4 separate regions of the Homo sapiens genome follow, and regions 2, 3 and 4 are each linked to region 1. Evidence: fine-mapped expression QTL. A gene starts in region 1. Each other region holds a variant in brackets. All regions are shown on one strand. Distances are between the middles of the regions.

Region 1 (7,627 bases):
CAGGAGTTTGAGACCAGCCTGACCAACATGGTGGAACCCAGTCTCTATTAAAAATAGAAAAATTAGCTGGACATGGTGGCACATGTCTGTAATCCCAGCTCCTTGGGAGGCTGAGGCAGGAGAACTGCCTGAACCCAGGAGGCGGAGGTTGCAGTGAGCCGAGATCGTGTCATTACACTCCAGCCTGGGCAACAAGAGTGAAACTCTGCCTCAAAAAAAGAAAAATTCCTGGAGGACAGAGTTCACGTCATATCTTTTATTTCATTACTATTTGTACTACAAAATGAAGTAAAGAATTGAGTATAGTGTAAAATCTCTAATATTCATTAGAATTCATTCTGCCAAGCAATTTATATATTCTATGTCTCCAAATCTTTAAGTCTGAAAACAGTTTTGAAATGGGCTTGTAAAGAAAAATAAACGTGATGCATGTACACGAAACTTCTGATCAGAAAATAATAAACAAATATGAAGTACTTCTTACCACAATTAAAACACACACACACACACACACACACACACACACACACACACACTTCTGCATGTACTGTGGCACAAAAAGAGGTCAAGAAACTTAAAGAGCAGCCAAAATTATTAAGAGGAGGAACTGAAGGACACTTATAATAGCTAATTATTTTAGGCAATTGGTGACTATGAAAAAAGGTGCAATGAGGCTATCTGCTCAATTAGAATGCTGAAGATAATTTTGGGACCATTTTTCATAGTGAATGAAAAGCTATAGAACAGTAATGCCTTCACTTGAGGCAATTCCAGGAGGCTGAAAACAGGACAGGCTAAAACTACGGAATTTACATTGCTTCAGGAAAGGGGAATTACCTTGGGCTTTATCTAGTCTAATCCTGAACTGCGACAGAGCTAGATGAGGTCTCCCATTGGAGAACTGACATAACTGAAGCCTGAGAGGGTACTGCAGATGAGATCACATGGATTTAATTTGGGAAAATGGAGACTAAGAGGCATGATCATAAATCTAGATTGTAAGTGGCACATACACATTGAACCCAGCTTTTTTTCTCATCCAAACTTGAAACATTTGGCAAAGGATGCCTTTACAAACTTCAGGAAGGCATCTACTTTACTTCAATTTTAAAGGAACGTATTACACAGAGGTGGTATCTCAAAATGACAGAGAACGCGAGCTCTGGAAGTCAGACTGCCTGTGTTCATAACCCAGCTCTACCACCTAGTAGCTCTGGGACCTGGGGCAAATTCCTTAACACTCTACTTCTCAGGTTCTTCAATCAAGAAAATGGAGGCAATAACAGGACTTATCTCACAAAGTTGTGGTGAGGATTATAATGCACGCAAAGTACTCAGAAAAAAAGGGTCTGACACATGGTAAGCTCTCAATAAATAGTGGCTATTAATATACTTCTAGAATTCATCATAAAAATCAGGAAACAAATTGATTTTTTAAAGGTTCAAATGTATTTAGGAATGGGAAATCAATATATGGCTACTTATAGCACTGGGACATACCCAACTTCAAGATTTGTGTTGTCTGAATGGGATGAATCAGTAAGACCATGCCTATTTTCCTTAAGTGTTCAACTCTAGAAAGTAATGACTACTAGCTTTGCTAATTCTTTCTTCATTAATTTTGCAAAAGGTATAAAAGCAATATGGAAAAAAGAGGTAGAGAAGACAGAAGTAGATTAGCACACAAGGTGATTTCCTCAGATCAGAATCTGATGTGCCCAATGAATGGGTGATGTTCCCATGTTTGGCTGAGGCATTCCAGGACTTTACATCTATATAAAAGGGCGGGGAGTGGGAAGGGGGCAGGTCTATTACTCCATCTTCAGTTACAGCACTTTCCCCTTCACCCACTACACTCCACAAAAGCCTTCTTTCAGTTCCAGTATCAGGCCAGACTCTTTCCTGTCTCAGGGCTTTGGCAGGTTGATCTTTCTCCTACCTGGAACACTGTTACTCCCTTACTACCCTCCTGTGGCTACTTCTTCCTCATCCTAAATTCCCACTTTCAAAGTCACTACCCTTGATACCCTTATTTAAAATAGGTCTCTTCACTGGGTGCAGTGGCTCATGCCTGTAATCCTAGCACTTTGGGAGGCTGAGGCGGGCGGATCACTTGAGGTCAGGAGTTCAAGACCAGCCTGGCAAACATGGTGAAACCCTGTCTCTACTAAAAATATAAAAATCAGCCAGGTGTGGTGGCATGCGCCTGTAATCCCAGCTACTCTGGAGGCTGAGGCAGGAGAATCACTTGAACCTGGGAGGCAGAGGTTGCAGTGAGCTGAGATCACCCCACTGCACTCCAGCCTGGGCAACAGAGCAAGACTCGTCTAAAAAAAAAAAAAAGGTCTCTCTTGTTATTTTCTATCACAGCACCCAGTGTGCTTCCTGTGCAGAAGGCACTTATGCAATTTGTAACTAATTATTTATGTATTTATTTTTAATGTCTCCCCCATTAGATAGCTCCATGATGGCAAAGAACATCTTTGTTCATTATATCAACCTCATTTACCTTAACACGTTGACTAGCATAGAGCAGACGCTCAATAAACATCTGCTGAATGAATGAAATAATGACTCCTAAGGCTCCTTTCAGCTGCCCAATAATTATTAGGTAATAGGATAAAAAATACCCAGTGTAAAGGGGGAGGTTTTACGTGGGGTATAGGAAATATCTGATTCCTCACTATGATAAAAAAACAAACAACTAAATGGCTCCATTCCAAGAAGTTTAGTTAAAACTTGACTGATGTGGGCTGGGCATGGTGGCTGACGCCTGTAATCCCAGCACGTTGGGAGGCCAAGGCAGGCGGATCACAAGGTGAGGAGATCGAGACCATCCTGGCTAACACAGTGAAACCCCGTCTATACTAAAAATACAAAAAATTAGCCGGCTGTGGTGGCGGGCGCCTGTAGTCCCAGCTACTCGGGAGGCTGAGGCAGGAGAATGGCGTGAACCCGGGAGGCGGAGCTTGCAGTGAGCCTAGATCGTGCCACTGCACTCCAGCATGGGTGACAGAGCGAGACTCCGTCTCAAAAAAAAAAACCAACAAAAAAAAAACACTTGACTGATGTAATCTATTAATGAGTAACAGCTTCCTCAGTGACTTTGTAAGTTTTGCTTTCAGATGTGCCTCAATCATTTTAACAACTGGTTATCTAGGCCCAAATCCCTGTCAAATAATGGGTTGGCTACATAAGAATTAGCTGATAAGCTCATTAAAAATACAGATTTTTGGACCAAAACTCCAGGAGATTCTGATTTAGTATTTGTGAAGCCTTAGAATCCATATAATTAAAATTTTCTCATTTTAAATAGATATTATGTGTATGTAATACACAGGTCCAGAGGTAAGAAACAGTTTACAGCAAAGTTTCTCTTCTACCCCTGTTCCCCTGGCATCAAGTTCCCCTTTCCATAAGCTACTGCTGTTATCAATTTCTTGTGTATCCTTACGGATAATTATTTGCCTAAGCAAGCACATATATATCCTTTGATTTGCATATTTAAAGAGCTATTCTAACCTTGTTTTTTCTAATCTCATTTACAATATATGTTGGAAATGAGGGTATCTGCATTTTTAACAAGCACCCTAGATGATTTTGATGTGAAGCCAAATATAGAAACAACTCATGGACCCACGGTTGTGAGATTAAGTTCAATTCACTACGACATATTAGAAACTCAAGGACATTGAAGGATGCCCTCAAAAGTAGCCTCCCTTACTTGATCTCTGCCCCCTCGTCTCACAGAGATGAACTAAATCATTCGCCAGTGTCTCCACAGAAGCCAGGAAAAACTAGCCATTCAAATGGATGCTGTCAAAGCTTCAATTTTCAATAATTGGAATTCTTTCCTGCTCATTGTTACCCGAAATTACAAACCTGACAATTCCTGTGTTACACAAGACATTCCTGTATTTAAGTTGAAATAAGGTGTGATCGTCACTGAATGAGGGCTGGTTTTTCTCCTGCCAGTTAAGTAGTTTAATGGAGCACAACCGAAATACTTTCTTTACTAATCCTTATTCACACAGCCTCATCCAAACTTCCCCCAAAACTGCTTTCTTGCCATTTGAGCAAAAGCAATTAACTTAGAAACTGTGGGGAGAAGACTGCTTGGTGAATTCTGGAGTTCGGGGCTCCTCTTATCCTGACTTGACCTACCTGGGGGCGATGGCTGGGTCCCTAGGCAGCTCTATCTCCCCCATCCCACCTATCCCTGGGACTGCAAAGGGAGCTTCCTTTTGGCACTGAGACAAGGTTCTCCGAGAGCCACCCGACCTCCGCAGTGTCTCTGTCACCACGAGGGGCACCGCGCGGCAGGCATCCTCACCTTTCCTACACCGCGCCAAGGAGGCAGGAGTGCACTGGGCTACCCGAGCGAGGCAGAGAACCCGCCGGGATCCAGCGCTGGTTTACCCCACACCCTCGTCGAAGGGGCTCTCGAGGGCTCGGTTTCTGCCCAAGCCCCCTGCAAGGTGGAGGCATGACTCCTCCATCCCTTCCCCTTGAATTCAAACGTGAGGATGGTATCTGCGAGGCTAAAGCGGGGCTCAGATGGCCCAAACTTCAGACCACTCTCTTCTCCACTCGGCTTTTCTTCCATCCTCCTGGCCATGTGTCTCCCCGTGAGTCGTGGCCCAAGTCTCCCCACCTCGGCCAGCCGCCACCCTCTGGCCTGGCTCCCGCCCTCCTGCCCACCTGGCCCCTTCCCCCTCACCCAGCATGATGGGGCTGAGCCGCCGGGCCAGGCCTTTGGACAGGTCGTACACGTAGAGCTTCACCGGATAGAGATTCGGCGGCTCCATTGGGACCCGTGGCGACGGCGGCCACGACGGCCCTCGGGCACCCGGCAGCGGCTTGGACCTTCCCGTACCCGACGGGAGTGCGAAGCGGAGGGAGAGGGGGGGACCGAGCCCGGGCCCGGGCTGAGGGGTGGGGGAGAGGCCGCCCTGCGCTGCTCGCGCCCCCACACCCGCTACCGGCAACGACTACTGTGAGGTGACAGAGAGGGGACAGGGAGGGCCCACACGGAAGAGGGGGCGGGGGCAGGGATGCACTTTTGCGCATGTGCTTACAGTCCTGACGTAGGAAGGGGCGGGGCTTTGCCGAAGGGGGCGGGGCTCTCGCTGATGGGTTGGCTTTCGTCAGGGACATAGGTAGAAGCTGGTTGGGGAGTGTGCGTGCCAGCCTGACGCGATATAGTGCGCACATGCGTGATGACGTAGAGGGCGTTGATTGGGACCGAGTACAGGGCCCGCGCATGCGTGGATTGTCGTCTTCTGTCCAAGTTGGTCGCTTCCCTGCGCCAAAGGTAAGCGGGCCGTTATCCATTTGTGTTGTTCGCCAGCTAGGCCTGGCCTCGTCCCGCTTCGCTCGGTCGGTCTCGCGCGCCCCCATAGCCTTGCTAGAGGGTTAGCGTTAGCCTTAAGTGTGCGAATCCGAGGAGCAGCGACAGACTCGAGACCACGCTCCTTCCTCGGGAAGGAGGCGGCACCTCGCGTTTGAGGCCCGCCTGCGTTTGAGGCCCGCCTGCGCTTGCGGCCCGCCTGCGCTTGAGGCCTGTCTGCGTTTGAGATCTCATTGGGCGTGATTGAGGAATTTGGGGAGGTTTTTGGGCGGTATTGAGGACGAGGGGGTCCGTTAGTCAGCATAGAATCCTGGAGCGGGAATCCCTCACCGTCTAAATGGCGTCGGGGGCGGGACCTCCGGGATCTGGCTTCCGCGGGCCGCCGCCGGCCCTGAAACGTGAGGGATAGCTGAGATGAGGCAGCTACTGGGATGGCCCCCATGCGCATTTACATGCAGTCCGACTGCCGAGCTTTCGAGGCAGCAGGATTTACCGTCCACATTCCTCACTACTAACCAAGCTTTTAGAACAGATCTCACAAGAACCTAGAGGTCGGTATTTTTTCGATTTAAATTTGCCTGTTACTGACGTTAACGTCTTTCGCCTAGTGAGCAGTAGCCAACATGTCAGGGTGGGAGTCATATTACAAAACCGAGGGCGATGAAGAAGCAGAGGAAGAACAAGAAGAGAACCTTGAAGCAAGTGGTAAGTGACTTCAGCATGTAGTGCCATTCGGTGTGTGGAAGAAAGACCTTCCCTGCCTATCTCTGCTGGATGGACTTTGCTGTTTGATGGCCTGCCCTTCTCCTCCCAGATAATTCTGAAATTCTTTTCTTCCTTTGAACTTCGCAGAGCTACCCTAGGCTCTTATATGCAGATCTTACTCTAGTGTGCCCTAAGTTTTTTTTGGACACTGGTAGTTTGACATCTTTTGGTCCCTGATAAATGGCCATGACCATAGGTATTTTTTGTCATCTTAAGTGGTTCAGGTGAGACCCTTCTCATCCAGGAAAGTAGTGTTACCATTCCAGGACCTCAGTGTAAAAATGCCCCCACCCTGCAATAACTACACCAACCAAAGAATAAACGCAAGCAACACAGTTACAGGAAAGTGATTGATTCCCTCACTATAGCCTCCACGTTTGGGAGTGTATGTGCAGGCAACACAGTAACACATAAAACAAAGGAAGAGAAATAGGGGTACATGTAATCTTCATACTGGTTAATTTAACTCCTGAGCAGAAAAATTTTGAATATTTTTATTAAAAATGAGAAACGGCCAGGCGCGGTGTCTCAAGCCTGTAATCCCAGCACTTTGGGAGGCCGAGGCGGGCGGATCACGATGTCAGGAGATCAAGACCATCCTGGTTAACACGGTGAAACCCCGTCTGTACTAAAAAAAAAATACAAAAAATTAGCCGGGCGTGGTGGCGGTCGCCTGTAGTCCCAGCTGCTCGGGAGGCTGAGGCAGGAGAATGGTGCGAACCTGGGAGGTGGAGCTTGCAGTGAGCCGAGATGGCGCCACTGCATTCCAGCCTGGGTGACAGAATGAGACTCTCTCAGGAAAAAAAAAAAAGTGAGAAACATAGGAAATACAAAAAAGAAAAAAATTTGCTATAATCTACCACTCTAACACAACCACTACCAGCATTTTGACATTTTTGTATTTTTCTTTCAAGTATCTTTCAATATTTATTTCCTAATGAAATATATATATTTTTTAATTTTTTAATAGAGACAGGCTGGAGTGCAGTGGTGAGATCATCGTAGCTCACTGTAACCTCAAACTCCCGGGCTCAAGTGATCCTCCTGCTTCAGCTACCTCAGTAGCTGGGACTACAAGTGCCGCCAACTCCCAATAATTTCTTAATTTTTTGTAGAGACAGGATCTTGCTATGTTGATCAGGCTGGTCTCAAACTCTTGGCCTCAAGCGATACCCCCAAGCCTTGGCCTCCCAAAGTTCTAGGTTTATAGTCATGAGCCTCCATGCCCAGACTGTATCTGATTTCTTTTTCTTTTTTTTTGGAGACAGTCTTGCTCTGTCGCCCAGGCTGGAGTGCAGTGGCGCGATCTTGGCTCACTGCAAGCTCCGCCTCCCGGGTTCATGCCATTCTCCTGCCTCAGCCTCCCGAGTAGCTGGGACCATAGGCGCCCACCACCACGCCCGGCCAGTTTTTTGTATTTTTAGTAGAGACGGGGTTTCACTGTGTTAGCCAGGATGGTCTTGATCTCCTGACCTTGTGATCCGCCCTACTCAGCATCCCAAAGTGCTGGGA
Region 2 (7,627 bases), 580 kb before region 1:
GGCTTCAGACATACCTTGCGGTTCCATACCTGGGGGCCTTTGCTTGTGATGTTCTTTTTGCCAAGAGCATTGTTCCTCCTGTTCCTTCTTATTATCGTGACAAACTTCTGCCCCTCTCTCAAGACCTAACTGAGGCCAGGTGCAGTGGCTCATGCCTGTAATCCCAGCATTTTGGGAGACCGAGGTAGGTGGATCACCTGAGGTTGGGAGTTCGAGACCAGCCTGGCCAACATGATGAAACCCCGTCTCTACTAAAAATACAAAAATTAGTTGGGCATGGTGGCGCACACCCGTAATCCCAGCTACTCAGGAGGCTGAGGCATGAGAATCGCTTGAATCCAGGAGGTGGAGGTTGCAATGGGCCGAGATCCAAAATCATGCCACCACACTCCAGCCTGAAGGACAGATTCAGACTTTCTCTCAAAGGAAAAAAAAAGTCCCAACTGAAATGTCCCCTCTCCTTTCCTTGACTTTCCTAAACAGGACAGTAGCTTCCTCCTTGCAATTTACATATGCACAGATGCATCTGTTATGGCCTGTATTACAACCCTTTTTTTTTTTTTTCTTTTTGAGATGGAGTCTTGCTCTGTCAGCCAGGCTGCAGTGTAGTGGTATGATCTCGGCTCACTGCAACCTCCACCTCCCGGGTTCAAGAGATTCTCCTGCCTCAGTCTCCCAAGGGGTTGGGATTATAGACGCCTGCCACCACGCCCAGCTAATTTTTGTATTTTTAGTAGAGATGGGGTTTCACCGTGTTGGCCAGGTTGGCCTCGAACTCCTGACCTCAGGTGATTCGCCCGCCTCGGCCTCCCAAAGTTCTGGAATTACAGGCATGAGCCACCACGCCCGGCCTTTTTTTTTTTTTTTGAGGCGGAGTTTCACTGTTGTTACCCAGGCTGGAGTGCAGCGGGGCAATCTCGGCTCACTACAACCTCTGCCTCCTGGGTTCAAGCGATTCTCTTGCCTCAGCCTCCCAAGTAGCTGGGATTACAGCCGCCCACCACCACGCATTGGCTAATTTTTTGTATATTTAGTACAGATGGGGTTTAGATGGGGCCAGGCTGGTCTCCAACTCCTGACCTCAGGTGATCCACTCACCTTGGCTTCCTCAAGTGCTGTGATTACAGGCGTCAGCCGCTGCGCCCGACCTACAACTTTTTTTTTAGTATATTTTTCTTTTTTTTTTTTTTTTCTGAGACAGAGTCTCTGTCGCCCAAGCTAGAGTACAATGGCATGATCTTGGCTCACTGTAGCCTCCACCTCCCGGGTTCAAATGATTCTCCTGCCTCAGCCTCCTGCATAGCAGGCACGCACCACCATATCCGGCTATTTTCTGCATTTTTACTAGAGATGGTGTTTCACTATGTTGGGCAGGCTGGTCTCGAACTCCTGACCTCAGGTAATCTGCCCACCTTGGCCTCCCAAAGTGCTGGGATTATAGGCATGAGCCACTGCGCCCGGCCTTTAGTCTGTTTTTCTCCTTCCCAGAGTATGACCTCCTTTGGGGCCTCATTCATCCCTGTGTCTTCATTCATTCATTCAACAAATCTTTTCTGAGTGCTTGCCTATCCCAGGCGTGGGAGCAGCTCACTCAATGTCTACTGAAGGGATGAATGAATTGGCGAGAGGTTGCTACCCCAATAGATGTTGTGTTGCTAGGTTACAGACTCTAGTGAGGATTGGAGAGGAGGGGGCGTGAATGCTGTTGTGTGAAATGAGAGTGAGCGTCTACACATATTCCTGCAGGATCAGGGAAACTTTGTGGGTGGAAATTCCATACTTCAGTACTGACAGTGTGGCAGGAGTGAGGTTTGGGTTTCTGACGGTGACTTTCATTATGTGTGGGGAGAGGATGGGAAGAAGGACGGTAGGAAGGAGTTGTGTTAGAGTCTTTTCAGTATACAAAAGTAGTTTGAAAAATCTTTCAGAGAATATTCTTCCATCATACCTCAAGTTGAGAATTAGTGAATTAAAAGCTTTCTAAGGTGGGGTACAGCGGCTCATGCCTGTAATCCCAATCCTGAACCTTTGGTAGGCTTAGACGAGAGGATTACTTAAGCCCGGGAGTTCCAGGCCAGCCTGGGCAACATAATGAGACCTCCATCTCTACAAAAAATAAAATAAAATTAGCTGGGCATGGTGGCACATGCCTGTGGTTTCAGCTACATGGGAGGCTAAGGCAGGAGGATCACTTGAACCTGGGAGATCAAGGCTGCAGGTGAGCTATGATCTCACCTCTGCAGTCCAGGTGGGGCAACAGAGCAAAACCAGCTTTCCTTTTTTTTTTTTTTTTTTTTTTTTTGAGGTGGAGTCTCGCTCTGTTGCCCAGGCTGGAGTGCAATGGCACAATCTCAGCTCACTGCAAGCTCCGCCTCCCGGGTTCACGCCATTCTCCTGCCTCAGCCTCCCAAGTAGCTGGGACTGCAGGCAGATGCCACCACACCCGGCTAATTTTTTTTATTTTTAGTAGAGACGGGGTTTCACCGTGTTAGCCAGGATGGTCTGGATCTCCTGACCTCGTGATCCGCCTGCCTCGGCTTCCCAAAGTGCTGGGATTACAGGTGTGAACCACCGCACCCAGCCTAAGACCAACTTTCTTTTCTTTTTTTTTTAGACAGAGTCTCACTCTGTTGCCCAAGCTGGAGTGCAGTGGCACCATCTCGGCTCACTGCAACCTCCGAGCCTCCCGGGGTCAAGTGATTCTCCTGCCTCAGCCTCCTGAGTAGCTGAGACTACAGACACCTGCCACCACACCGACTAATTTTTGTATTTTTAGTAGAGACGGGGTTTCACCCTATTGGCCAGGCTGGTCTCAAACTCCTGACTTTGTGATCCACCCGCCTCAGCCTCCCAAAGTGCTGGGATTACAGGCATGAGCCACTGCACCTGGCCAAGACCTGCTTTCTAAATAAATAAATAAATAAATAGGCTAGGCCAGGTGCGAAAGCTCACATCTGTAATCCCAGCATTTTGGGAGGTCAAGGTGAGTGGATCACCTGAGGTCAGGAGTTTGAGGCCAGCCTGGCCAAGATGGCGAAACCCCATCTCTACTAAAAATACAAAAATTAGCCAGGTGCGATTGCATACGCCTGTAGTCCCAGCTACTTGGGAGGCTGAGGCAGGAGAATCACTTGAACCTGGGAGGCGGAGGTTGCAGTGAGGCAAGATCGCGCCACTGCACTCCAGCCTGGATGACAGAGGGAGACTCCACCTCAAAAATAAATGAATAATAAAGACTAAGAAAAAAAGAGTCTACATAGATGCCTGCCAGGACCAGGCACAAAAATGTAAGTGAGAGGCAGTGATTGGTGGAGAATGTGGCTCCTGTCTGGAGGGAGTCATTGCTACTTAGCACCAAGCAGAAGCCTCCGGAGGAACTGTGGGCCCAGTGTTGCAAGACCTTCCAATTTTTCGGTAGAGGCTACAATTCCAGGTTTTAATGTGAGATCATCCCCAGGCACTGCTCCCTGCCGACGCTCTCCCTGGACACAAGGTACTCTTCCTTCTTACTCTTTCTCTGATTGGCTCTTTGCACATGTCTCATTGGCAGGGAGGAAGAAGAGAGAGAAAGAATTGGAACTAGAAGGGGAAACTGTGAATCTCCACAGCTACTGAATGACCATTTCTACATGCTTTTTGTGGGGGAAGGGAATTTAATGGTACAGAATTTACAAAACACCAAATACAACCCCAAACTCCTGCCACTGACCCCAGCCTAGGTGGATGGGTGTCAAGAGATTAAATTGCTGCATGGTTGCCTTGGCAACCAAATTTGTTAGTGATAAAACAACAGAGAGAAAGCTGCAACTTACAACCCAGATTTATGTAGTAAAACAAAATCCTATGGCCACAAGCTGGGTGCATTGGCTCATACCTGTAATCCCAGCATCTTGGGAGGTCAAGGCAGGAGAATGGCTTGAGCCCAGGAGTTTGAGACCAACCCAGGCAACAGTGAGACCCCTGTCTCTCTCTAAAAAAAAAAA[T/A]ATATATATATATATATCCTGTGGCCGGGAGCTGTGGCTCACTCTGTAATCCCAGGACTTTGGGAGGTCAAGGTGGGAGGATTGCTTGAACCCAGGAGTTTCAGACCAGCCTGGGCAACATGGGGAGACCTCATCTCTTAAAAAAAAAAAAATGAAAAAATTAGCCTGGCATGGTGGGGCACACCTGTGGTCCCAGCTACTCAGGAGGCTGAGGTGGGAGGATCGCTTCAGCCCAGGAGGTCGAGGTGCAATAAGCCATGATCATGCCACTACACTCTAGCCTGGTGACAAAAGGAGACCTTGTGTCAAAAAAAAAAAAAAAAAAGAAGAAGAAGAAGAAGAAAGAAAAGAAAAGAACAGAAAGAGGGAGGGGCCAGGCACAGTGGCTTGCGCCTGTAATCCCGGCACTTCGGGAGGCCAAGGCGGGCGGATCACTTAAGGTCAGGAGTTCAAGACATGCCTGCCCAAAATGGTGAAACCCCATCTCTAATAAAAATACAAAAAAATTAGCCAGGCATGGTGGTGCACACCTGTGATCCCAGCCACTCGGGAGGCTGAGGCAGAAGAATCGCTTGAACCTGGGAGACAAAGGTTGCAGTGAGCGCAGATCACGCCACTGCATTCCTGCACTCCATCCTGGGCAACAAAGCGAGACTCCAGGTCAAGAAAAAAAAAAAAAAGAAAAAGAAAGACCTGTCTGTCTGAGGTGAGGCTCTCTGGGAAGAAGTGAGGTGGTTTCTTTCTTTTTTTTCTTGAGACGGAATTTCACTCTTGTTGCCCAGGCTGGAGTGCAATGGTGGGATCTCGGCTCACCGCAACCTCCACCTCCCGGGTTCAAGTGATCCTCCCACCTCAGCCTGCCAAGTAGCTGAGACTAAGGCACATACCACCACACTCAGCTAATTTTTGTAATTTTTGTAGAGATGCAGTCTCGCCACGCTGCCCAGGCTGGTCTCAAACTGCTGGACTCAAGCAATCCATCTGCCTCAACCTCTCAAAGTGCTGGGATTACAGGCATGAGCTACCACACCTGGCCCTTCTCTGTTTTATTAGAAGGTAAAAAGATACTCCCTTGGCTGAATTCTGACATTGACTGAACATGGGTGAAGCCAATCAGTTAAGGCTCTGCTATTTCCGAAGGGAGGATGTAGTTTGTGGGAGCCACTGTACATAGTGGGCCACAGAAATTATTTCCTAATGTTCCAGCCCCCAAATGAGAGTATTATGCAATAACTTTCATTATGTCTTTCCTTAAAATCTGTTATTTCTTGGTTTCTTTTTTCTTCATAAAACTAGTATTACATTATGGAAAATTTGGTAACATACAACTTGATTTTGTGTATTTCTTTTTAGTCTTCTTTTTCCTTTATTAGGTATATTTCAGTTTTCTAATATCATTGTAGTCATATTGTATGTGTTATTTTATTTATTTATTTATTTTTGAGACAGAGTCTTGCTCTGTCGCCCAGGCTGGAGTGCAGTGGTGTGATTTCAGCTCACTGTAAGCTCCGCCACCCGGGTTCATGCCATTCTCCTGCCTCAGCCTCCCAAGTAGCTGGGACTGCAGGCACCCACCACCATGCCCGGCTAATTTTTCTATTTTTAGTAAAGACGGGGTTTCAGCGTGTTAGCTATGATGGCCTCGATCTCCTGACCTCATGATCCGCCCGCCTCGGCCTTCCAAAATGCTGGGATTACAGGCGTGAGCCACCATGCCAGCCTGTATGTTTGATTATAGATTTCCCTTTTCTCACTTGGTATCATAGAAAAGCGTTTTTAACTTAGAAGAGTAAATAAAATAAGCTTTTGCATGCATAAACATATGCAATGAGCCAGGCGCGGTGGCTCACGCCTGTAACCCCAGCACTTCGGGAGGCCAAGGTGGGTGGATCACGAGGTCAGGAGCTCAAGACTAGCTTGGACAACATGGTGAAACCCCATCTCTACTAAAAATACAAAAATTAGCCGGGCGTGGTGGCAGGCGCCTGTAATCCCAGCTACTCAGGAGGCTGAGGCAGGAGAATCTCTTGAACCTGGGAAGCGGAGGTTGCAGTGAGCCAAGATCGTGCCACTGCACTCCAGCCTGGGTGACAGAGCAAGACTCCATCCCCCACCCCCACCACCTGGCCCCCCAAAAAATATATATGCAATGGTGGTCCCTTCAATTTCATTACCACACATTTATTTATTTATTTAAATTTTTTTTCTTTAGAAATGGGGTCTCACTACGTTGCCCAGGCTGGAGTACAGTGGCTATTCACAGGTGCAATCATAGAACCCTACAACCTCAAACTCCTGGGCTCACGCAATCCACCTCCCTCACCTTCCCAAGTCGCTGGAACTACGGGTACATGCCCCTGTGCCTGGCTTTACTATACTTTTAAAGGTAGTATGGGGCAAAAATAATTCTTTCGTTACTGTTTTATGCTATGTGAAAGGAAATTGCACTTGCTTTTTATATTGATATTGAAGACAACGTTACACCAAAAAGTGTAATTTGATTTTTCTTTTCTTTCTTTTTTTTTTTTTTTTTTGAGATGGACTCTTGCTCTGTTGCCCAGGCTGGAGTGCAGTGGCGCGATCTCGGCTCACTACAACACCCTCCTCTCGGGTTCAAGCGATTCTCCTGCCTCAGACTCCCGAGTAGCTGGGATTACAGGCGCCTGCCACCACGCCTGGCTAATTTTTGTAGTTTTAGTACAGACGGGGTTTCACCATGTTGGCCAGGATGGTCTCCATCTCTTGACCTCATGATCCGCCTGCCTCAGCCTCCCAAAATGCCGGGATTACAGGCGTGAGCCACCGCTCTCAGCCTTGATTTAGTTTTTTTAAGAGTTTACAAATAGTGTGTGCTAAATAAAACCGTTTTGCAGCAAATAGGTTGATATAACTTTCTTTTTTTTAGTTTTTATTTTAGGTTTGAGGGTACATGTGAAGATTTGTTACATAGGTAAACACATGTCATGGGGCTTTGTTGTACATATAATTTCATCACACAGGTATTACCCCAATGCCCAATAGTTATCTTTCCTGCTCCTCTCCCCGCTCCCAACCTCCCCCCTCAAGTAGACCACACTGTCTATTGTTTCCTTCTTTGTGTTCATAGCTTCTTATCATTTAGCTCCCAGATATAATTTTCTGCCCACAATTTTAAATCACATGGGAAAGATTTAAAGAGAGGGAAAGAATTGGACCTAGAAGGAAGAAGTGTTTCTTTCCACAGCCACTGAATGACCATTTCTATGTACTTTTTGTGGGGGAAGGGAATTCAATGGTACACAATTTACAAAACACCAAATGGAATGGCAGATTTGGTAGGTAATGCATGTTTAATATGTGTGTGTGTATATATATATATGTATGTGTGTGCATATGTGTGTGTATGTATGTGTGTATATGTATATGCATGTTTATATATGTGTGTGCATAGGTGTGTATGTGTGTGTATATGTGTGTATATATGTGTGTATATGTGTATATATATGTGTGTGTATATATATGTGGGTGCATATAGACCCATCGTAGCCACTATTTACTTTGCCTTTTTTTTTTTTTTTTTGAGACAGAGTCTTGCTCTGTCTCCTAGGCTGGAGTGCAATGGCAAAATCTTGGCTCACTGCAACCTCCACCTCCTGGGTTCAAGC
Region 3 (7,627 bases), 610 kb after region 1:
TTTAAGGGAACGGCAGGATATCCAGTCTGTAACTTCCATAAACAGCAAATATCCAATCATTCTTTTATTGTTGTTTTTAAGCATCTACTATGTGCTGGGCTGTTTACTAGACCTGGGAAAATAACTAGGACACTGTTCTATCCTGAAAAGCCTCAAACTGCAAGAGAGTAACGCAGGTACAGTACAGTGAAGAGAGAGGGTCAGAAGATAGGGTGCGTAACAACAGGTTTGTTGAAGGCCACGGCAATTTTCCTTTCCAACCATACTGCTCACTATTGGCCAAACCCACCACTCCACACAGACCATGCGCTCCGACCTCTTGATTTGTGCTTGGCCTCTCCCCAAAACACTTTCCAAATCTGAGTCATTCCTCAAGGCCATTTGGCTTCCTCACTGAAGGCTTCAGGAAAACGGCTCAGCTTGGTGATCTTGCCTTCCCCAAACAGCTACAGCACTTCTTGTCCATACACCATTACCTGGTGGCTGTGTCCTTATTTCCCCACTTGGTATGAATGCCTTATCTCCCCAGCTGAGCCATGTATTGTTGAAGGCATGTAACAAACATGTCTCACATCTACAAGGTCCTCAAACAGCAGCCAAGCAAACACTTGTTGCTCTGCTACTAGACTTCCCTCCAATCCAGCTTGCATTTCAGCATCTTACTGAAAAAGATCTGATTAATTCACCCCCTATTTTAAAACCTTCACTGGCTCCCAATTATTAGTACAGCACATGCAGACTTGTCTTCCAGGTGTACCACACAGCTTTCCCTTCCCTGCCTCCCAAACACCTTAAAGTTGAAGCAACAGCAATAAAAATAGTCACGTGCTACATAACACATTTCTGTCAACAATGACCACGTACACAATGGTGGTCCCATCAGAGTACAATGGAGCTGAAAAACTCCTATTGCCTGGTGATGCTGTAGCTGTCATAATGCAACATATTACCTCCTTGTTTATGGTCATGCAAGTGTAAACCTAATATACTGCCAGTGGTATAAAAGCATAGCACATACAACTATGTACAGTACATAATACTTGAAAATAAACTATGTTACTGGTTTACATATCCTATGTAGAATTCTATGTTATGTATACTATGTATTCTACTTATAAAAATAGTTAACTAAAGCTGGGTGTGGGAGCATGTGCCTATAAGTCCTAGCTACTCAGGAGGCTGAGGCAGAGAATCGCTTGAACCTGGGAGGTGGAGGTTGCAGTGAGCCGAGATCATGCCACTGCACTCCAGTCTGGGCGACAGAGAGAGACTGTCTCAAAAAAAAAACCAAAGCAAACAAACAAAAGACACTGTTATCATAGGAGATGATAGCTCCATGTGTGTTACTGACCCTAAAGACCTTCCAGTGGGCCAAGATGTGAAGCTGGAAGACAGTGATATTGATTATTCTGACCCTGTGTAGGTTTAGGCTAATGCATGTGTTTGTGTCTTAGTTTTTAACAAAAGTGTTTAAAAAGTGAAAAAATAAAAAATAAAAAATATTTAAATATGGCTCGGTGAGGTGGCTCACGTCTGTAATCCCAGTACTTTGGAAGGCCAAGGTGGGTGGATCACATGGGGTCTGGAATTCCAGACCAGCCTGGCCAACACGGTGAAACCCCGTCTCTACTAAAAAAAACACAAAAATTAGCCAGGTGTAATGGCGTGTGCCTGTAGTACCAACTACTTGGGAGGCTAAGGCAGGAGAATCGCTTGAACTCGCGACATGGAGGCTGCAGTGAGCTGAGACTGCACCATTCCACTCCAACCTGGGCGACACAGCAAGACTCTGTCTCAAATAATGATAATAAATAGAAAAAAAAGCTTATAAAGTGGCTAGGCCTGGTGGCTCACACCTACAATTCCAGAACTTTTGGGAGGCAGAGGAGAAAGGATTGCTTGATGCCAGGAGTTTGAGACCAGCCTGGGCAACATAGCATGACTCCAGCTCTATAAAAACTAAAAAAACGTAGCCAAGCACGGTGGTATGCACCTGTAGTCCTAGCTACTCAGGAGGCTTAAGTGAGGGTTGCTTGAGCCCAGGAGTTTGAGGTTACAGGGAGCTATGACTGTGCCACTGCACTCCAGCCTGGAACAGAGTAAGACCTTATCTCTAAGAGTAATTAATAATAATCATAAAAAAGTTTATAGAATAACACAATGACAGAAAATATTTTTGAACAGCTGCACAATGTATTTGTGGTTTAAGCTAAGTGTTATTACAAGAGTCAAAAGGTTACAAATTTTTAAAGTTTTTAAAGTAAAAAAGTTACAGTAATCTGGCCAGGGACTGGTGGCTCATGCCTGTAATCCCAGCATTTTGAGAGGCCCAGGCGGGTGGATCACAAGGTCAGCAGATCAAGACCATCCTGGCTAATACGGTGAAACCCCGTCTCTACTAAAAATACAAAAAATTAGCCAGGTGTGGTGGCGGGCACCTGTAGTCCCAGCTACTCGAGAGGCTGAGGCAGAAGAATGACGTGAACCCGGGAGGCGGAGCTTGCAGTGAGCCAAGATCAAGCCACCGCACTCCAGCCTGGGCGACAGAGAGAGACTCCGTCTCAAAAAAAAAAAAAAAAAAGTTACAGTAATCTAAGGTTAATAATATCAAAACAAGAAAACTTTAAAAAATAAATTTAGTGTAGTCCAAATGTACAGTGTTTATACATCTACAGTAGTGTGCAGTAACGTCCTGGGCCTTTACCTTCATTCACCATTCACTCACTGACTCACCCAGAACAACTTCCTTATCTTTTATACCTTATTTTTACTGTACCTTCTCTATGTTTAGACATATGCAGATACATACTTACCACTCTTTTACAATCTCCTACAGCATTCAGTACAGTAACATGCGGTACAGGTTTGTATCCTAGGAGCAATAGGCTATACCACATAGCCTAGATGGGCAGTCGGCTACACCCAGGCTAGGTGTGTGTAAGTACATCCTAAGATGTTAGAACAACGACAAAAATCACTCAATGATGCACTTCTTAGAAATATTCTGTTGTTAACTGAGGCATGATTGTACCAAAACAAAAAAAAAACAACGTACCACCAGCACCAAAGGTGCCAGAGATGAAAATTAGAAAGACGACTGATATTCATTCAACTGCTGACAACAGATGTTTTGGGGGTGGGATTACAGGGCATAGTCATCTTTCAGCAACTAGTTCGATCGGCCGGGCGCAGTGGCTCACGCCCGTAATCCCAGCACTTTGGGAGGTCGAGGCGGGCGGATCACGAGGTCAGGAGATCGAGACCATCCTGTCTAACACGGTGAAACCCCATCTCTACTAAAAAAAATACAAAAAAATTAGCACGGCGTGGTGGCGGGCACCTGTGGTCCCAGCAACCCGGGAGGCGGAGCTTGCAGTGAGCCTAGATCGTGCCACTGCGCTCCAGCCTGGGCAACAGAGCAAGACTCCGTCTCCAAAAAGAAAAAAAAAAAAAAAAACTAGTTTGACCAACATGCTAATTTTAAAACAAATAAAATTTAAAAGAAAACAATAATTGCAACTACTTTTATTGAGTGTTTAAATTATGTGCAATGCAATATTTTTTGTTTGTTTTGAGACAGAGTCTCCCTCTGTCGTCCAGGCTGGAGTGCACTGGTGCAATCTCGGCTCAGTGCAACCTCTGCCTCCCTGGTTCAAGCAATTCTCCTGCCTCAGTCTCCCAAGTAGCTGAGATTACAGGCTTGTGCCACAATACCCGGCTAATTTTTGTATTTTTAGTAGAGGCGAGGTTTTAACCATGTTGGCCAGACTGGTCTCGGACTCCTGACCTGAAGTCATCCACCTGCCTCGGCCTCCCAAAGTGCTAGGATTACAGGTGTGAGCCATCACACCCAGCTGCAATGCAATATATTATAGTCTCATTTAATCTTAACTCTATTATGCAGTAACTAGCCATTCTGCAGATGAGGAAACAAAGGCTCAGAAAGTTTAGTAACTCTCATAAGGTTATACAGCCAGTCAGT[A/G]AGGAAGACAGGCTGGGACTAACAAGGAATGTGCCCTAACTTCTACTGTTCTTAGCAATGTTCTGTGTATTCCCAGCACACCCAGCAGGCACCTTCTGCACCTTTTCGTTTGTTCAGCCTGGTCCTTCTGCGTGAATAATACCAGCTTTGCTGACATACCACTCACCTTTCAAGTCCAGTGCAAATCGCACTTTTCCCTTAACACCTTCCTAGAACACAAGCCATGATAAGCATTACCAGAGTTATCTACCCTTCTATTTCCCCCACAGCGTGGGACCTTAGTTCTCTTACTGCCACGCACAGAGCAAGCAATCGAACACTGGGTGAATTAAGTTGACAATATAAATTCTCTTTCTGACAAATGTAAAGGTAACAGATGAAGACCAAAAGTTTTAATCTGTGAGGAAAATTAATACCAAGAAAGGGTTTCCATAATCCCTACCTGCATTCTCTGCTCTGAACCTCACCTCTCACTGAGGCATAAGGAAAGGCAGGTTAATTTTCACCTCTTCCAAAAAGTGGCTTTACATAATAAATCCCACTTCTGAAGAATAAAAGCTACCTAACTTGTTATTAAAAATGTAAGCAATGAGAATAAAAAGGTTTCTTTAGAGTTTTTAAAATTACTTTCAATGCCTCTAGCCCTTGAAAGAAAGCACTTAAGTTTAGTACAAACAAAATGTAAAAACATGAAAACTTACTTTCCCTATACATAAACATGGAGACACAAAACCAGTGAAACAGACACGTTTAAAATTCAAAATGCTCTTAACTGACCACATCCTAATTTACGAGCAGAAGTCGAGTCCAAACAAAAACACACTGTAAAACAAAAGTGCTGGCTAACAACCTTAGAAAGAAAATATAGGAGGGGACAAACAGATTTTAATGTGTCCTTGGCCTTCCTGAGCAAAGCAATGAGAAATGCAGTCAACCAAAGCATTTAGACTTGATTTTACTGGACGTACCAACACCATAGGTCAACCTGTCAAATGAAGCAAAAAGCAGAACCGAGTTCTATGGGTTTAGTCCCCTCCAGATAAAAGCCAATGAACCTTTTTACAGTTTATGGGGTCCTCTCCATATGGCTGGGGATGCAGGCATGGGAGGAATATTGTCTGGACGATTAATTCCTGTGAAATGAACACAGGAGTTAGGAGGAGCGGAGGTGAGTCAACACACTCTACACTTCCACGGTTGCCTCAAACTCACCACAATTCCAAAATACCAAGAAACAATGTGCTAGTTCTTGCTTTTTTTAAGTGTCCATAAGCTAAAAGTCCTTCTGAAGATTGAGCGTCCCACTTAAAAGCCCAAACCAAAAAATAGTTTGCAGGATTATTTCAAATATATTAAAAACATCAAAATGCTAACTCCAAACTAAGGTGAAATAGTTACATCTAAGTATCCAAGAAGAGCATCAAGAATTAGCAAATTAATTTAGGGTCAGAAAACCTAATAATTAGGGTCAGAAGAACAAAAAGATCATTTCGGTAGCATAAGAACTTTGTGCCGGGTGCAGTGGCTCACGCCTGTAAATCCCAGAACTTTTGGAGGGCAGGGCAGGCGGATCACGAGGTCAGGAGTTCAAGACAAGCCTGGCCAACATGGTGAAACCCCACCTCTACTAAAAAAAATACAAGAATTAGCCAGGCATAGTGGCGCATGCCTGTAGTCCCACATACTCGGGAGGCTGAGGCAGGAGAATTGCTTGAGCCCAGGAGACAGAAGTTGCAGTGAGCCGAGATCGTGCCACTGCACTCCAGTCTGGCCAACAGAATGAGACTCTGTCTCAAAAAAAAAAAAAAAAAGAACTTTGTAAATGTCTGTCGCTCTAGACCTTATTTTAGGGTGCAAGCCATAACTATGATAAGGAGGGTGCCATGTATAAATGTAACAGACACTGAGACAAAAGAAAACTACTCCTGACAGCAGTTTGCTGTCTTTCCCAAGAGATTTGAGGAACAGTAACCATAAAACTTTCCTCCTCCCTTCTCAACTGGGGACTTCTCTGATGTAATATCAGGGAGAAGAACAAGGGAACATTGGGTATCAACTGGTGCACACCATCTCTCTCCTGAAGTGACAGAAAGAACATTGAGTAGTACTATCTTACCTAGAGTCAAACTAAATGACTTGAACAAAGAGACCAAGAAAAACATGTTTAGAAAATCATCTAGAAATAGGATTTTATTTTAGTAAGCGAAGTGAACAAAAAATACAATTTTATTTGTACATACAATTGCTTCCACTATTAAATTTGTTTTCTATTGATTCTTCTGGGTCATCTGTTGGAAAAAGTACTACATTTAGAATTAAGAAATCTAAATACTTCCTAGTCTTGCCACTTGTTCTGTGACTTGGGCAAGTTATTTAACCCATATGTCTCACATTCTTCACCTGCAAAAGTGGAGTTAACCTACCTTGCCACCACACGGGAATGTCCCACAGTAAGTCTGCAAACAGCTAAGTACCATATAAATCAAAATTATCACTGTTAGAATTACCACCCTCTTTCCCTCTCTCAGGTAAAAACTTGAACCAATAATAAAATAAGTAAAAGACACCAGACATGGTGGCTCACGCCTATAATCCCAGCACTTTGGGAGGCCGAGGCAGGCAGATCACTTGAGGTCAGGAGTTCAAGATCAGCCTGGCCAACATGGTGAAACCCTGTCTCTACCAAAAATACAAAAATTAGCTGGGCATGGTGGCAGGCACCTGTAATCCGAGAATCACTTGCTTGTACACCCAGGAAGCAGAGGTTGCAGTGAGCCGAGATCTCACCACTGCACACTCCAGCCTGGGTGACAGTGAGATTCCACTTCAAAAAAACAAACAAAAACAAAAACAAAAAAACAAGTAAAAGACAACAAGGAAAAAAATGGAAAAGAGGTTATCAAACAAACAAAATAAACCCTAAAAAACACAATAAATAACTACTGATTGGTGTAACAGCACTCTGTGACAGGTAATTTTTGTCATTCTCGAGTTAGGAAAGATCCCACACCCTGGGATCTACAGTCCATTCATAGAAATCACAGCAGGGTTAAATCCTCATCAATCCTCTAATTCACAATGAAGAATGCCGACGGAGCGCATTCTTAATCTATATGGCAAGAACTACAAGCCACAGGACCAATCCCCACCCTCCCCACAGAGGGACAGTGGCCTGACAGTTGGAGCTCTACTTGGAGGCAGATGGCCTCTAAAGTGCAAGAGTTTTCCCTTCTTCCCTGACCACTGGCATGCAATTAGCAAACACCCTAACCCCAGTCATTCTGAAATAAGCCAATGGAGAGTCACCTGCAATCCTAAATTTTGAAAATAAAAAAGTCAAAGAGACACAAACATTCTATGAAAAATCAGCCACAAGCATAACATTGCAGGTATTGTGGGTCTGGTTCCAGACCGTGGCAATAAAGCGAGTCACACAAATTTTCTGGTTTTCCAGCACATATTAACTTTTATATGTGTACGCTATACTTCAGTCTACTAAGTGTGAAATGGTATTATGTCTAAAAGACAATGTTCATACCTTAATTTAAAAAATACTTTATCGTTAAAAAATGCTAACAATCATCTGAGCCTTCAGGGAGTCCTAATCTTTTTGCTGACGGAGGGTCTTGCCTCCATGTTGATGGC
Region 4 (7,627 bases), 40 kb before region 1:
GGCCACCTTTTAAGGCACCACTAGCAGTCAGGATATGGTGGCATCAGCCCTGGGGCCTCCTGGGTGGCAGGGGGGCAGCAGCTCTCCTCCCCACTCACAGGCCCTGCAGTGCTCATTTGGAATTCCTCCCAAGACCCCTGGCCACCCAGACCCCCCATTCTTCCTAACACTGGCAATAAACCCTCAACTGTGACCCACCGTGGCCTGAAGCTGCCTCTGTGTCAGGGTCCCCAAGGAAGGGGCTGGGGGTGGACACACCAAACCAGCTCTTCTTTGGGGATTCAATGGCCCCCTCCTCGACTGCATCAGACTTCCTTTGTGACCTGGGCCAAGTCCCTGCCCTCTCTGTGCTGTTTACTTGTCGGCAAAGTAGTGGCTGTGACAGCATGTGACTGGGGCCAATTATCCATTCAGACACAGCTGACACCTACTTTGTTCTGGGAACTTTAATACTGTGACAAAGTTCTCTAAAATAGGCACCTTCCCCACCGTACCTCATCGCCCAGGGCAGGCAGGCAGGGCAGGCTAGATCTCGTACCGATACTTGAGCACGCCTCCTCCTGGTGCAGAAAGAAACCTCTTCTGTACCGAAATACAAGCAGCAGCTGTGGCCTGGGCCACCAGGTGGAGCATGGGGAACACTCTGGGCCCTGGGAGGACGAAGCCAGTGCCACTAGGAGCAGACTGGCTGGGGACGGTTGTCCACACAGACTCTGGCCCCATCTGGGTGGGCTTGCAGCAGGCGTCCTGGGCCAGAGGAGGGGCCCTGGCATCTATCCAACACCAGGACCTCTCTTTAGGCCTAGGCCAAACTCTTCAGAAGTCACGACACACAGATGTGGGCCCCGGTCACGCCTCATGAGCTGTCTCTGGGAAGAAAATCTCCCGGCATCGCTGCACCGTGTCCTGAGGAGACACCACGCTGTGGCCAACAGTCCGGGGGTCGGCAAAGATCTCAAAGTCGTTCCCACCCTGCACACAGAGGATGGGCAGAGGAGGGATATTTAGGTGGAGTCCCTCTCCACATTGGCTGCTACGGACCTGCCCCTCCTCCTGCCCCTTCAGAACTGCCAGGAAGCCCACCTTCTCACCCCTTGTCAGACCTGCCCTGACTTGCTGTGTGATGTAGAACAAGTGCCCAGCCTCTTGGGGCCCCAGCTTTCCAATCTGTGTAACGGGGCTGGTGAGCAATGGTTGTTCTCCAGGAGCCCCCTAAGAGGTCTGTTGTGTTGCCCCATGTTCTGGCCTTGACCTCAGGTGATTTGCATTGGAGAAGCCACCAGACCTGGCTTCTCACTGTCCACTGCGTTAGGGGAAACCTGGGGTGGGCCACACTCACAGGGCTAGTCTCGTTCCCAAAGAAGTGGATGGTGTCGAAGCTGTCCTGGTCCAGGCTATCCAGGCAGTAGCGCTTGTCCCAGCCCTCGGGGAAGACGTCAAAGCTGATCATGCCTCCTGTGGGCAGGGGTGGGGACTGTTATTCCCTGCTGGGAGGGGCAGACAAGGCTAACAGAAGGGCTGCTTGTTCATTCATTCATTCAACAACCCTTGAGTGCCTACTGAGGGCCAGGAATAGGACACGGGACAGACTTAGGATCCTCAAGGAAGTTATGACACAGGTTGGAGAATGAACAAGACCATGAAGTGGGTGGGGGAAGCTCATCCGGCCAGGGTGATCAGGGGAGACCTCTGAGGAGGTGGCAATGAGCTGGGACCTGAGCCGAGTGGGGATGGCTGGGGCGCAAAGTACAGCCCCTGAGGCAGGGAAGAGAACGAGCGTCCCAGCAACGGAGGAGGCCAGGAGAGGTAGGGGGAGGACGGGCAGGCCCTGGGCATCACATGGAGAGGGAGGAAGAGCCTGGGGAGGACTTTGGGCAGAGGCATGTCATGACTCCAGCTCCAGCCTCTCTGGCCACTGGGGAATGGGTGAGGTGGCAGAGGGGAGCCCAGTTGTGTCAGGGTCAGTTGGAGCCTGGGACAAGCTGCTGGCAGTGGAAGTGTGAGCACCGGTGGGATTCCAGACAGGGGGCCCTGTGACTTCTAGGAGTTTGGACTTGGGAAGGGGTGGGGGAGAGCATTCAAGGGAGAGGCTCTGGTTTTTTGGCCTGAGAAACTGGGTGGGCATGGGGCGTTTACCTCTGAGGTATGAGGTGGGGAAAACTGGGGGCCAGTAAACACTGAACCCCTTTCTGCATCGGGCTCAGCCACCCTCTCTGCCCTGAGCCGGGGAGGGGCTACTAAAGCTACTGGGGGCCACAGCCTGGTCTTGGCAGGGGCAGATGGTTTGAGGAGGGGCCCTGTACCAGGCCTCCCAGGTCCTCTGCAGGGTGGACGTACCTCGAGAGAACCTCAGCCCTTTGCCAGCAAACTCTGTTTTCAGGGCTTCCACGAACTTCTCCCGGATCTTCTCTTTCTGCAGAGGGGAGGGAGCGGATGGCAGCTCAGAGGACCTGCTGTGTGCCAGGCCCTGGCTGGGCACACAGTCCACGTGAGCGTGCTGAGCATTCTAGGTGGGTAGGACCCCCAACTGTGCAGATGCGCAAACTAAGGCTCAGAGAGGGGTTGTGCCTTGGTCAAGGTCACCTAGCCCTGGTGGCAGAGCCAGGGCCTAAATCCAGAAGGGATGGGGCTGCCAATGGGGCTGTGGGCTGGGTCTTCTGAAGGAGACCTCAGAGGAGAGACACGAGTAGGAAGGGCGAGGAGACGGGGCAATCTGGATCCCACATCAGTGTCCACCTCAGGGCAGGGCTCGATCCTGTTATCTGTAACCAGCTCAACAAAGCAAATACTCAGAAATGAGCATGGGAGCTGAGAGCAGGAGACCTGTGAGGAGGTGGCTGTGGGCATTCACAGAGGGCAGCAGGATGCCAGGCATGGCAGAGCACCCAGCATGCAAAGACGCGGCTGGGCTGGGGACTAGGTAGTGCCCAGGCCGGCCCCGTCCCTCTGAGCAGGAACTCTGGCAGCAGCTCCGCAAACGTGGAGCAGGGGGACATTCTCCCCGCCAGCCCCCAGGATCTCCATCTCAGAGGGCCACAAAGGGGAGCAGCTATGCCCAGTCTGAGGGGCAGCTGAACATCTAAACCAGCCAGCAGGACATTCAGCTGACAGAGGGTCTCGAGACCGGGCTGGGAAGTCTGACCACATCCTGGGGGACCAAGAGGCGCTGAGGATTCTGGAGCACAGGAGTGGGGTGGCTGGTATGGCCCTGTAGTCAGAGCCGGGTAGGACTGGGGCGGAAAGGCAGGCAGTGGTCAGCAGCATGGAGCTTGGAGAAGTGGCCCAGGGAGGATGTCAGATATAAAGCCAGACACCCCCTAGCCTGAGATCTGAAGGCAAGTAGCCAGGCTTGGCTACTGTACTCCTCAGCTGTGTGACCATGGGCAAGTCACCTGACCTCTCTGAGCCTATTTCCTGGACTAAAGGACAGAGAAGTAATGAATGACCCCTGCCTGCTTCCCTCTCATGGAAAAGCAGAGATAAGGGATGTGAGCCCCCTGCCAGCCTTGGCCTGGCTTTCCAGCAGGTAGGTGGGCCCCAGGGAGGCCAGAGTCCCCACCAGCGTCCACTCTGTAGGCCCAGGGCTACCACTAAGACTGCCCCAGGCTCTGAAGAAATGTTTCCACATGGCCGAGGCTGGCTGCACCTCCCTTCTCTGGAGAACAAGGCTGGTCACTAGACAGCCCCATGTGCAAGGCCAGCCTCAGCAGGGACCGGCACTGTGACCTCGAGCTGGTTACTCACCCTCTGGCCTCAGTGTCCTCATCTAAGGAAGGGAAGTACTCATCCCCGCTTCAGGGTTCTGGAAGATGAGCTGGGTTAAGCATTTATTTACACCAGCTCTGGGCCAGGGCAGGGCGCACAGATCAGGAAGGTTCATGCTCCTCCAGTGCCAGAAGGGAGCAAACAAGAGCCAAAAATACTTGAGAAGGCTCTGGGGTGGGGAGTTAGGGTGTGGCTCCCCAACTCCATGCCAGGTGGGGTCCATGTGCCACCTCATCCAGT[G/C]CTCATGACAGCCCATGGGATGGGAACTGCTATTACCCCCACCTTACACATAAGGAAACTGAGGCACACGTTAGTAAAGATGCTTTTCCAGGTTACAAGGCAAATGGGTAGAGCTGGGACTGGGAACCTGGGTGGACAGGAAGGGATAACTTCTCAGCACGTGTATTGGGGGGGAAGGGTTCTTTGCCTAAGACCAATCCTAACTACCCCAAAAAAAAAGTCCCCGTGGCCGGGCGCAGCGGCTCACATCTATAATCCCAGCACTTTGGGAGGCCAAGGTAGGCAGATCACTTGAGGCCAGGGATTTGAGACCAGCCTGAACATGGCAAAACCCTGTCCCTACTAAAAAATACAAAAATTAGGCCGGGCGCGGTGGCTCATGCCCGTAATTCCAGCACTTTGGAAGGCCAAGGAGGGCGGATCACAAGGTTAAGAGATCGAGACCATCCTAGCCAGCATGGTGAAACCCTGTCTCTACTAAAAATACAAAAATTAGCTGGGCGTGGTGGCAGGCGCTTGTAGTCCCAGCTACTTGGGAGGCTGAGGCAGGAGAATCGCTTGAACCCGGGAGGCAGAGGTTGCAGCGAGCCGAGATCTCACCACTGCACTCCAGCCTGGCGACAGAGTGAGACTCCATCTCAAAAAAAAAAAAAAAAAAAAAACCCAAAACCAAACCAAAACCAAAACCAAAACCAAAAAACTTAGCCAGGTGTGGTGGCATGGGCCTGTAATCCCAGCTACTCAGGAGGCTGAGGCAGGAGAATTGCTTGAGCCTAGGCAGCGAAGGTTGCAGTGAGCTGAGATCATGCTACTGCACTCCAGCCTGGGTGACAGAGCAAGACTCTATCAAGAAAAAAAAAAAAAGTCCCTGTGCCTGTGGGCACTGCCTCCCCTAAGCCTCAGGGCACAGGTGGGAGTCAGGAGTCACTGAGCTGAGAGGCACCCTCAGGGAGGCACCAGAGGGCCAATGGCAAAATCAAATCTTTGCTCTGCAACCAACTCCCTATGTGACCTCGGGCAGGGCCCTTCTCATCGAGCCTTGGTTTCCTCATTTATAAAATGGAGATAATACAGCTCATTTCATTCATTCAAAAGGTATTTCTTGCCGGGCACAGTGGCTCACACCTATAATCACTTTGGAAGGTTGAGGTGGGTGGATTGCCTGAGCTCAGGAGTTCGAGACCAGCCTGGGCAACACGGTGAAACCCCATCTCTACTAAAATACAAAATATTAGGCCGGGCACAGTGGCCACGCCTGTAATCCCAGCACTTTGGCAGGCTGAGGCAGGCGGATCACGAGGTCAGAAGATCGAGACCATCCTGGCCAACATGGTGAAACCCCGTCTCTACTAAAAATACAAAAAATTAGCTGGGCATTGTGGTGCATGTAATCCTAGCTACTTGGGAAGGCTGAGGCAGAAGAATCGCTTGAACCAGCGAGTCAGGGGTTCCAGTGAGCCGAGATTGTGCCACTGCACTCCAGCCTGGTGACAGAGCAAGACTCTGTCTAAAAAAAAAAAATTAGCCGGGCGTGGCAGCATGTGCCTGTAGTCCCAGATACTTGGGAGGCTGGGGCAGAAGAATTGTTTGAACCCGGGAGGTGGAGGTTGCAGTGAGCCGAGATTGTGCCACAGCACTCCAGCCTGGGTGACAGAGCGAAACTCAGTCTCCAAAAAAAAAAAAACAAAAAAGGGTATTTCTTTGCGAGGTGCGGTGGCTCACACCTACAGTCTTGGTGCTTTGGAAGGCTGAGGGAGAAGGCCCACTTGAGGCTAGGAGTTCAAAACTGGCCTGGGAGACACAGCGAGATCCCATCCCTACAAAATATTTTAAAAATTAGCCTGGCATGGTGTAATGCACCTGTGGTCCCAGCTACTCAGGAGGCTGAGGTGTGAGGATCGCTTGAGCCTGAGAGATCGAGGCTGCAGTGAGCTAGGACTGGATCACTGCACTGCACTCCAGACTGGGCAACAGAGTAAGACCCTGTCTCAAAAACAATAACAACAAAAAGTATGCCATGTGCCAAGCATAGGGGATCCAGAGGAGAACAAGCCGCAGAAATCCCTCATGGAGCTTACAGTTCTGGGACAGGGACAGACAGTAATTCGGATTTTAAAAGTAGATGATGAAAGTTGTCCAAGGCTACTTGGGGAGAAATAAGGTAGGGGAAGGAGGAGGAAGTGCAGCAGTGGATGTGATACTCTCGGAGGCCCCACTGGGAAAAGGATGTGAAAGGGGATTTGAAGGAGGGGAGGGACGAGCTGGGCCTGAGAGAAGTGTGCTCTGACAGAGGCACAGCACTCTAGAATCAGCCAAGAGGCCATAGCTGGAGCAGAGGGCAGGGAGAGCCACCGAACAGGTCAGAGAGAATGACAGAATGACGTGGACGGGCCAGCATGGAAAGGTCTGGATGGGTGGATTGCTCCATCCCCGAGAGGGAGGGAGGCGGTGGGGAGAAAAGCAAAATGCACATCAAGGTTTAGCAGGGGCAGTACAGGCAGAGGTGAGAGGACCTTGGTGTGTTCCAGGAATAGAAAGTGGAACTTGAAGGGCATAGAAAGGAGACGCGGAGAGCCAGAGCCAGACAGAGCCCTCAGGGCTTGAGGCACCATAGCAGGGGGCTAGGACATCATCCAGTTGGCAACGAGGAGCCAAGGAAGGATTGTAAATGAGGGGGTGGGGCTGGGGGGTGAATGCGGCTGACATGTTTGAAAGGTTCTAATGGGCTGTGCGTGGTGGCTCATGCCTGTAATCCCAGAACTTTGGGAGGCCGAGGCAGGCGGATCACCTTAGGTCAGGAGTTCGAGACCAGCCTGGCCAACGTGGTGAAACCCTGCCTCTACTAAAAAAGTACAAAAATTAGCTGGGTGTAGTGGTGCATGCCTGTAATTCCAGCTACTTGGGAGGCTGAGGCAGGAGAATCGCTTGAACACGGGAGGTGGGAGTTGCAGTGAGCTGAGATCATGCCACTGCACTCCAGCCTCTATCTATTTTTTTGGAGACTCTATCTCCAAAAAGAAAAAGAAAGAAAGGTTCTCAGTGGCATTGCTGGAGAGCAGGCTGGCAGGGCTATGCAAGGGGTAGGGAGGGACAGAGAGGAAAGTTGGGGCAGCCTGGGGCTGGGGAAAGGGGTAATCTAGAAAGTGGGGTCTCAGTTCTGCAGATGAACAGATTTGACACTGACTCGAGAGGCTGATGAAATAAGAGTTGTTGGACCCGATGTGGGTGGGAAGGTGGAAATGATGTTCCCAGGTGTTGGCCTGGCTCAGTGGGTGGCTGCCTGGTGCTGGTCACCTAGGAAGGGGGACCAGCAGCATTGTAAAGATGCAGGTGTGTCTACAACAATGGCACACAGTAGGTGCCTGAAAGGGTATCAGTTAAATCAGAACACATCCCCCAGTCTATTTTACTGATGAGAAAATAAAGGCTCAGATAAATTGAGTGACTGAGGCCCTACAGGCCTAAGATTGCATAGCTAGTGGTACCTTGTCCAGTTCGGAGAACTCGATCCTCTCCTCCAGGGTGCAGCTCCGGCCGATGGGCGAGATGTTCAGCATGCCATTCCGGAACTCGATGAAGGTTCCACTGGTGGTGAGGGAGGGCGGGGAGCCAGAGAGAACCA

Alleles and levels. Alleles are on the strand shown, and positions count from the first base shown. SD is a standard deviation of normalised expression in the study named. Not every link is listed here.
For the expression in subcutaneous fat of the gene that starts at base 5,012 in region 1, allele A in region 2 goes with a lower level than allele T (large effect, 1.7 SD a copy in FUSION).
With allele G in place of A in region 3, the expression in spleen of the gene that starts at base 5,012 in region 1 is higher (large effect, 1.0 SD a copy in GTEx).

Evidence for each region. PIP is the estimated chance that this variant, and not a neighbour inherited with it, causes the effect. A credible set is the group of variants that fine-mapping cannot tell apart.
Region 2: its variant is the best candidate, but not a certain one, in a credible set for the expression of DESI1 in subcutaneous fat (FUSION, PIP 0.68).
Region 3: its variant is the best candidate, but not a certain one, in a credible set for the expression of DESI1 in spleen (GTEx, PIP 0.85).
Region 4: its variant is the best candidate, but not a certain one, in a credible set for the expression of DESI1 in whole blood (TOPMed, PIP 0.57).

What each region holds. Positions count from the first base shown.
Region 1 is chr22:41,616,032-41,623,658 of GRCh38, forward strand. DESI1 (desumoylating isopeptidase 1) reads right to left here and starts at 5,012. Exons shown (of 6, transcript NM_015704.3): 1 at 4,721-5,012. The coding sequence starts at 4,808. It overlaps XRCC6 (X-ray repair cross complementing 6), which reads left to right and starts at 5,264. Exons shown (of 13, transcript NM_001469.5): 1 at 5,264-5,314; 2 at 5,959-6,055. The coding sequence starts at 5,974. RefSeq lists enhancers at 3,018-3,087, 3,098-3,157, 4,430-5,031 and a silencer at 4,763-5,032.
Region 2 is chr22:41,035,475-41,043,101 of GRCh38, forward strand. No RefSeq gene overlaps it. Among named protein-coding and RNA genes, the nearest start is that of SNORD140, 34 kb to the right of the region's middle. The variant T/A (reference allele first, on the strand shown) is at 3,984.
Region 3 is chr22:42,229,366-42,236,992 of GRCh38, forward strand. All of the region lies in intron 1 of TCF20 (transcription factor 20), which reads right to left. Among named protein-coding and RNA genes, the nearest start is that of TCF20, 37 kb to the right of the region's middle. The variant A/G (reference allele first, on the strand shown) is at 3,983.
Region 4 is chr22:41,576,469-41,584,095 of GRCh38, forward strand. PMM1 (phosphomannomutase 1) reads right to left here. Exons shown (of 8, transcript NM_002676.3): 5 at 7,491-7,590; 6 at 2,338-2,413; 7 at 1,340-1,455; 8 at 432-972. The coding sequence ends at 850. It overlaps CSDC2 (cold shock domain containing C2), which reads left to right. Exons shown (of 4, transcript NM_014460.4): 4 at 1-198. Among named protein-coding and RNA genes, the nearest start is that of PMM1, 9.6 kb to the right of the region's middle. The variant G/C (reference allele first, on the strand shown) is at 4,006.